Homo sapiens: one gene and its partner. The protein of the gene in region 2 interacts with the protein of the main gene of each other region in a pairwise test. Each region holds a gene or a part of one and is shown on either strand. Other genes may lie near its edges.

Region 1 (3,650 bases), on a different chromosome or scaffold from region 2:
ACTAAAAAAACATTTTTCGGCTGGGCGCAGTGGCTTATGCCTGTAATCCCAGCACTTTGGGAGGCCAAGGCGGGCGGCTCACCTGAGGTCAGGAGTTTGAGAGAACAGCCTGGCCAACATAGGGAAACCCCGTCTCCATTAAAAATACAAAAAAATTAGCCAAGCGTGGTGGTGCATGCCTGTAGTCCCAGTTACTCAGGAGGCTGAGGCAGGAGCATGGCTTGAACCCGGGAGGCAGAGGTTGCAGTAAGCCGAGATCATGCCACTGCACTCCAGCCTGGGTGACAGAGTGAGATTCCATCTCAATAAATAAATAAACATTTTTTGTGGATGTTTAATTCTCTCAGCCAGCCTATGAAGGAGCTACTGTCACAGGAAAGGAACAGAACATAATTAAAAGCTAGGTTCTAAAGTCAGACTACCTGGGTTCTAATTCTCTCTCTGACAGTCACAAGCTATAAGATTTTTCAGGCTGGGTGCAGTGGCTCACAACTGTAATCCCAGCACTTTCAGAGGCAGAGGTGGAAGGATTGCTTGAGCTCAGGAGTTTGAGACCAACCTGGCCAACATAGTTAGACCCCACCTTACAAAAAAGTTGCCACGCATGGTGGTGCATGCCTGTGATCACAGCTACTTGGGAGGCTGAGGTGGGAGGATCACTTAAGTGCACAAGGTCAAGGCTGCAATAAGCTGTGATCATGCCACTGCACTCCAGCCTGAGTGACAGAGTGAGACCCTGTCTCAAAGAGATTTTTGAGGCCAGGTGCAGTGGCTCACGCTTGCAATCCCAGCATTTTGGGAAGCCGAGGCAGGAAGATCACCTGAGGTCGGGAGTTCGAGACCAGCCTGACCAACATGGAGAAACCCTGTCTCTACTAAAAATACAAAATTAGCTGGACGTGGTGGTGGGAACCTGTAATCCCAGTTACTCGGGAGGCTGAGGCAGGAGAATCGCTTGAACCCAGGAGGCGGAGGTTGTGGTGAGCCGAGATCACACCATTGCACTCCAGCCTGGGCAACAAGAGCAAAACTCCATCTCAAAAAGAAAAAAAAAAAGATTTTTGATTTCCCATGCCTGTTTCCTTTTCAGTAAAATAGAGAAAATAGAGTACACATGTCAAAGGGTGTTTGTGAGGTTTCAATAAGCTAATCTATGAAACTCAGTGCTTGATGAATGAATAGTAAGTGCTTGATAACATACCCTAAGGTCAGTAATATTATTCCCAGTTAACAACTAGGGGCCAGGCACAGTGGCTCACGCCTGTAATCGCAGCACTTTGGGAGGCCAAGGTGGGAGGATCATTTGAGGTCAGGAGTTTGAGACCAGCCTGGCCAACACAATGAAAGCCCACTTCTACTAAAATACAAAAAAAAAAAAAAAAAAATAGCCAGGCATGGTGGCGTGCGCCTATAGTCCCAGCTACTCAGGAGGCTAAGACAGGAGAATCACTTGAACCTGGGAGGCAGAGTTTGCCATGAGATGAGATTGCACCACTGCACTCTAGCCTGGGCGACAGAGTGAGACCCTGTCTCAAAAACAAAAAAACAAACAAACAAAAAAACCCTGCTGGGCGCGGTGGCTCACGCCTGTAATCACAGCACTTTGGGAGGCCAAGGCAGGTGGATCACCTGAGGTCGGGAGTTCGAGACCAGCAAGACCAATGTGGAGAAAGCCTGTCTCTACTAAAAATACAAAAAAATTAGCCAGGCGTGGTGACTCATGCCTGTAATCCCAGCTACTCAGGAGGCTGAGGCAGGAGAATCACTTGAACCCGGGATGCAGAGGTTGCGGTGAGCCAAGATCACACCATTGCACTCCAGCCAGGGCAACAAGAGCAAAACTCCATCTCAAAACAAACAAAGAAACAAACAAAAAACCCCTAAGGCACAGAGAAGTGAAGTAACATGTTCAAGGGCACGCAGCAAGGAAGAGGCAAAGTCAGCATTTGCCTGGAGCTCCCGGACATCCAAGTGGCCCCATTCCACACAATCTCCCAGGGTCTGACCGCCCACATCCCCGCTCACCTGGCTGGTGTGATTAGCACCCATTTGCAGCAACATGTGGACACAATCCAGCCTGTCTCGGGCCTGTGTGCTCAGCACCCGGGGACAGAGGTCGGAAGGGCGCATAGCAACGTTAAGGGCCAGGATGGCCGTGTGGAGCGGGGTGAGGCCTGCAGAATGGAGACAGTGAGGGACCCGCATCTGCACCCACCTCGCCCAGCCACACCAACCACACCAGCCCTGCCCACACCCAACTTACCCTCGAAGTCTCTGGCTTCCAGGTCAACCTGGACCCCAGAGTTAAGCACAGCCTGGGAGGAAGAGAAGGCAGACTGCTGGGTAAGGGTATCCCCTGGCCTCCTGGCCCTGGAAGCCAAAATCTGGGCAACCAGTCTACCCCCCAGACAAACCCCTGCCTGCCAGCTGGCCATACCAAGAGAACTCCTGGGAGCCCGTAGGTAGCGGCCACGTGCAAGACCGAACGTCCCTGATGGTCAGCGGCATTGGGCTCTGCTCCCAGGTTCAACAGATCCTCCACAATCAGGGGCTGGTTGGCAGCAGCCGCCACCAGGAGAGGGGTCTGCAGGCCACAGGAGAAGTCAGGTTGGGCTCCTGGTTCCCTCCCGTCAGAAAACCAGGCTCCCAGCCCCATCCCCCCTCAGCCCCAGGAGCTCACCCCCCATTCCCCTCTTCTCTAGGATCCAGGGGTCCAGGCCCCAGGCTCCTTCCTCCCCTGAACCCAGGAGAGTTCAGGCCCCAAGCCTCACCTTGCCCTTATGCTCACGAATGTCAAGACGCCGGTACACCTGGAGCACCTCAGCCGCAGCATATGCCGCCCAGCGCAGCCCCCGAGCCGCAAACAGGTGAAGGAGCCTGAGGACAGGTGGGGGACAGCCGTGAGAACAGCCCCCACCAAGCCAAGAGTCTGCAGACAACCCTATCCCTTATACTCACGTGTCCCCCTCCTCATCCTGGGCCAGCAGCTGCTGTGGCCCCAAAGCCAGCATGTGAGCTCGGGCCACCTCCAGCGATGGTCCAGGGACCACAGCGGGGAACTGTGGGGGTCCTGAAGGGGGTGCAGAAACTCTCCAGGGTCCAGCCTGTGGCAGAGAAGATCCTACATAGAACTGGGTGTCTGGGGGGTCCTGGAGGGTGCAGGTGGTGGGGAGACCCAGTCAGCTGAGAATTCCTCCATCCCAAGCCACCACACACACATCTGCATGCAGAGCCCCTGGGTATCCCATCTATGCCAAGTGACCTTGGACCTTTAGGCCTCAGTTTTGCCCACCTGGAAAAGGGTATTTTTTTTTTTCGGTGACAGAGTCTTGCTCTGTCACCCAGGCTGGAGTGCAGCAGTGCAATCTCTACTCACTGCAATCTCTACCTCCTGGGTTCAAGCAATTCCCCTGCCTCAGCCTCCCGAGTAGCTAGGATTACAGGCGTGCGCCACTACACCCAGCTAATTTTTTTATTTTTGGTTTCACCATGTTGGCCAAGCTGGTCTCAAACGCCTGACCTCAAGTGATCCGCCTGCCTCAGCCTCCCAAAGTGCTGGGATTACAGGTGTGAGCCACCACGCCCGGCCTGGAAAAGGGAATCGTAACTGAGCTCCAGACATCTCAGAATACTGCAGGAGTGCAACTGCG
Region 2 (2,875 bases):
AAACAAAAAGAACGCCACCAGAGGCTGGGGCTGCTGGCTCACGCCTGTAATCCCAGCACTTCAGGAAGCCAAGGCGGGAGGATCGCTTGGGCCTAGGAGTTCGAGACCAGCCTGGGCAACATGGCAAGACCCCTCCATCTGTACAAAAAATACTAAAAGTCGCTGGGTGTGGTGACGCGCGCCTGTAGTCCCAGCTATTCAGGAGGCTGAGGTGGGAGGATCATCAAGCCCAGGAGTCTGAGGCTGCAATGAGCCGTGATTGCACCACTGCACTCCAGCCTGGGCGACAGAGCGAGACCCTGTCTCAAAAAAAAAAAAACAAAAAAAAAACCGTGACTGCACATGAGCTAACCACGCCTGTCCACAAAGTTAGGAAAACGAGCTACCCTCAGCCCGTCCGCTGTCCACAGTGGGGGCGCCAGGGGAAAGGGGTCAGCTTCCCCGCCTGGGGCTGTGTCTGGTTCTGATTGCACTGCAGTGAATCTGCCCTAAACCAAACGTCAGAAAGAAAAGCGGCAGACGTTTCATCACAACACAGAGACAGACAGGAGCCCGCCCTGCTTTAATGCGCATGCGGGGGAGCCGAGAGGCGGGGCTGCTGGCGGGGGAGCCGAGAGGCGGGGCTGCTGGCGGGGGAGAGCGTGTCCGGGCGCCGCACTCTGCGCAGGGCTCTTGGATGGCGCTCACCACGTCACGTCTTCTGTGCTTTCGGCCAAGCACTGGGCCAGGTGGCTGTCAACATCCAGCTGGGTCAGCCTGCAAGGGAGGGGCCACACTCACTCGGCCACCTCCGCGGCATGCTGGCCGCAGAGAGCACCGTCTGGACCTCCGGGCCCTCTCTGCTCCTGCCGCTGGAGAGGATCCGGCTGGTCAGAAACAAGGGACGGGGCCACCCCAGGGGCTCATGCACCCGGCAGACCACGGTAACCGCCAGTGGTGTTTCCACACCGTGCCCGTGAGGAGGCCACGCCAGGCCCCTGCGTCCGAGCTGGGGGTGGGGAAGCTGTGTCTCAACAAGCCTCTCTATGGGATTCTGGCGCCTGCTCAGCTTGAGAACGCGCTCATCGTGGAGCCCGGCAGACAGGCGGCCTGACCCGGAGAAAAGGCAGGACGGCGGGTGGCCTGCCAGGGAGAGCCGCCGCGGCTGCGTCTACAGGAGGCAGAAGAGTAAACATGGCTGGGCAGTGGATGTGCAGCTCACGTCAGAGAATTGGTGTTTCTGGCGAGGAGGGACCAAGCCTCACCACGGAGAAGGACGCCGTCACCGGCGTGCAGGCTGCCAACCTGCCACTCTGGGAGGCCCCACGCGGCCCCTGCACCTCTCAGGAGGGCGCTGGCGCTGGGATGGTGGCCGGCCAGGCAGGGGTGGCAGGAGAAAACCCATCCGAGTCCTGCAGGTCAGCGCCCTGGGCATCCAGTGGGGCCGGGAGGGGTGTCTGAGCGCAGCCACCTTCTATCCCCGGCCTCATGTGGCCCCATCAGCCCAACTGGAGCGGCTGGAAATGACCATCACCAGGCCTGGCCAAGGTGTGGCCCTGGAAGCCAGGACAGTTGACTTCCGGCCATGACTCCCGGAGAGTGCCGGAGCTGGCGTGCTCAGCAGAGCTGCCGGGGACGATGTCCCGGGGCTGAGTGGGCGGCTTCAGCCTAGACTTGGGCCTAGATCTTGCTGGAGGCCAAGTGGTCAGTGTCCCATCAGAGTGACCATCCCTCACACGCCACTGCTGGGGGACACACCCCCACTGAGCGGCCAAGTCCACAGGACACGTGTCCCTGTGTCCACCTGTCAGCCACACCGCCCCTCGCTCCCCTACAGCCTCTGCCCTCAGACCAGTCCACGGCGCGCCGTTTTACCCTTGGGCTTTGCTGTGTCCCTTCCTTTGGCTCCTGTGCCCCGTCTGTGTGGCCACTGCAACCCTCAAGTCCCCCTCTCCAGACCATAGCTGGACCCCCACTCCCGGGGCTGGCTCCAGCAGCCATCAGCTGCCTTCTCACTCTGGCAGAGCCCACCCAGTGCCTTCTGAAGCCCCCGAGGGTCACTCAGTCTGAGACTTTCCGGCTTCTGCCCATCCTGGGAACCAGCCCCTCCCTCCAGAAGCTTTCTCTAAGGTTGCCAGAAGGTGCTAAGATCTGAACCGAGGTCATCTTGTCCCGGGGTTTCCAGGCAGCGTCCCTTGTTTGGGGGCCCTCTGAGATGCCTTCAGACCCCCGCCTGTGGCGGAAGAGCTTTGTCCTGGCCTGATCTGCCCTGTCCGTGACGCTTCTGCTCAGTAGCTGAGCACGCCCTGTGGTGTGGACAGGCCAGCCCGGCTGCAGGACAGTGGGGGCTCAGTCCAGAAGCCTCTGGTGGCTTCTGCGTGTGGGCAGGGGAGCAGGGCTGCAGGGTGGGCTGGCACCTGGCAGCGTGAGGGGCCTCAGGGCTGTTAAAATCCCAACGACCGGCCGGGCGCGGTGGCTCACGCCTGTAATCCCAGCACTTTGGGAGGCCGAGACGGGCGGATCACCTGAGATCAGTTCAAGACCAGCCTGACCAACATGGTGAAACCCTGTCTCTACTAAAAATACAAAAATTAGCCAGGTGTGGTGACGCCTGTAATCCCAGCTACTCAGGAGACTGAGGCAGGAGAATCGCTTGAACCCGGGAGGCAGATGTTGCAGTGAGCCGAGATCATGCCACTGCACTCCAGCCTGGGCGACAGAGCGAGACACCGTCTCAAAAAAAAAAAAAAATCCCAGTGACCAACCCAGGGCCTCGCCACATCAACAGAGACAAAACGCAGCTCTGGCTCTCAACATCCTCACCCCTCACCAGGTGCCCAGCTTCCCATCCACCCACGTGACCCGCAGGTGTCTGAAAATGCACAAAATGTCCAAA

Evidence for each region.
Region 1: the proteins of FAAP20 (region 2) and NFKBID interact in binary tests that used the Homo sapiens proteins (3 or more experiments, as listed by UniProt).

The regions. Positions count from the first base shown.
Region 1 is NC_000019.10:35,893,955-35,897,604, forward strand, and holds part of NFKBID (NF-kappa-B inhibitor delta), read right to left. Parts: intron 3,150-3,650; coding exon of another isoform or gene 3,105-3,149; coding exon 2,959-3,104; intron 2,878-2,958; coding exon 2,772-2,877; intron 2,585-2,771; coding exon 2,438-2,584; intron 2,316-2,437; coding exon 2,264-2,315; intron 2,175-2,263; coding exon 2,026-2,174; intron 1-2,025. UniProt on the Homo sapiens protein: Regulates the expression of IL-2, IL-6, and other cytokines through regulation on NF-kappa-B activity. Functions in the regulation of inflammatory responses.
Region 2 is NC_000001.11:2,189,026-2,191,900, forward strand, and holds the end of FAAP20 (Fanconi anemia core complex-associated protein 20), read right to left. Parts: exon of another isoform or gene 773-2,875; intron 757-772; coding exon 684-756; 3' UTR 523-683; downstream 1-522. UniProt on the Homo sapiens protein: Component of the Fanconi anemia (FA) complex required to recruit the FA complex to DNA interstrand cross-links (ICLs) and promote ICLs repair.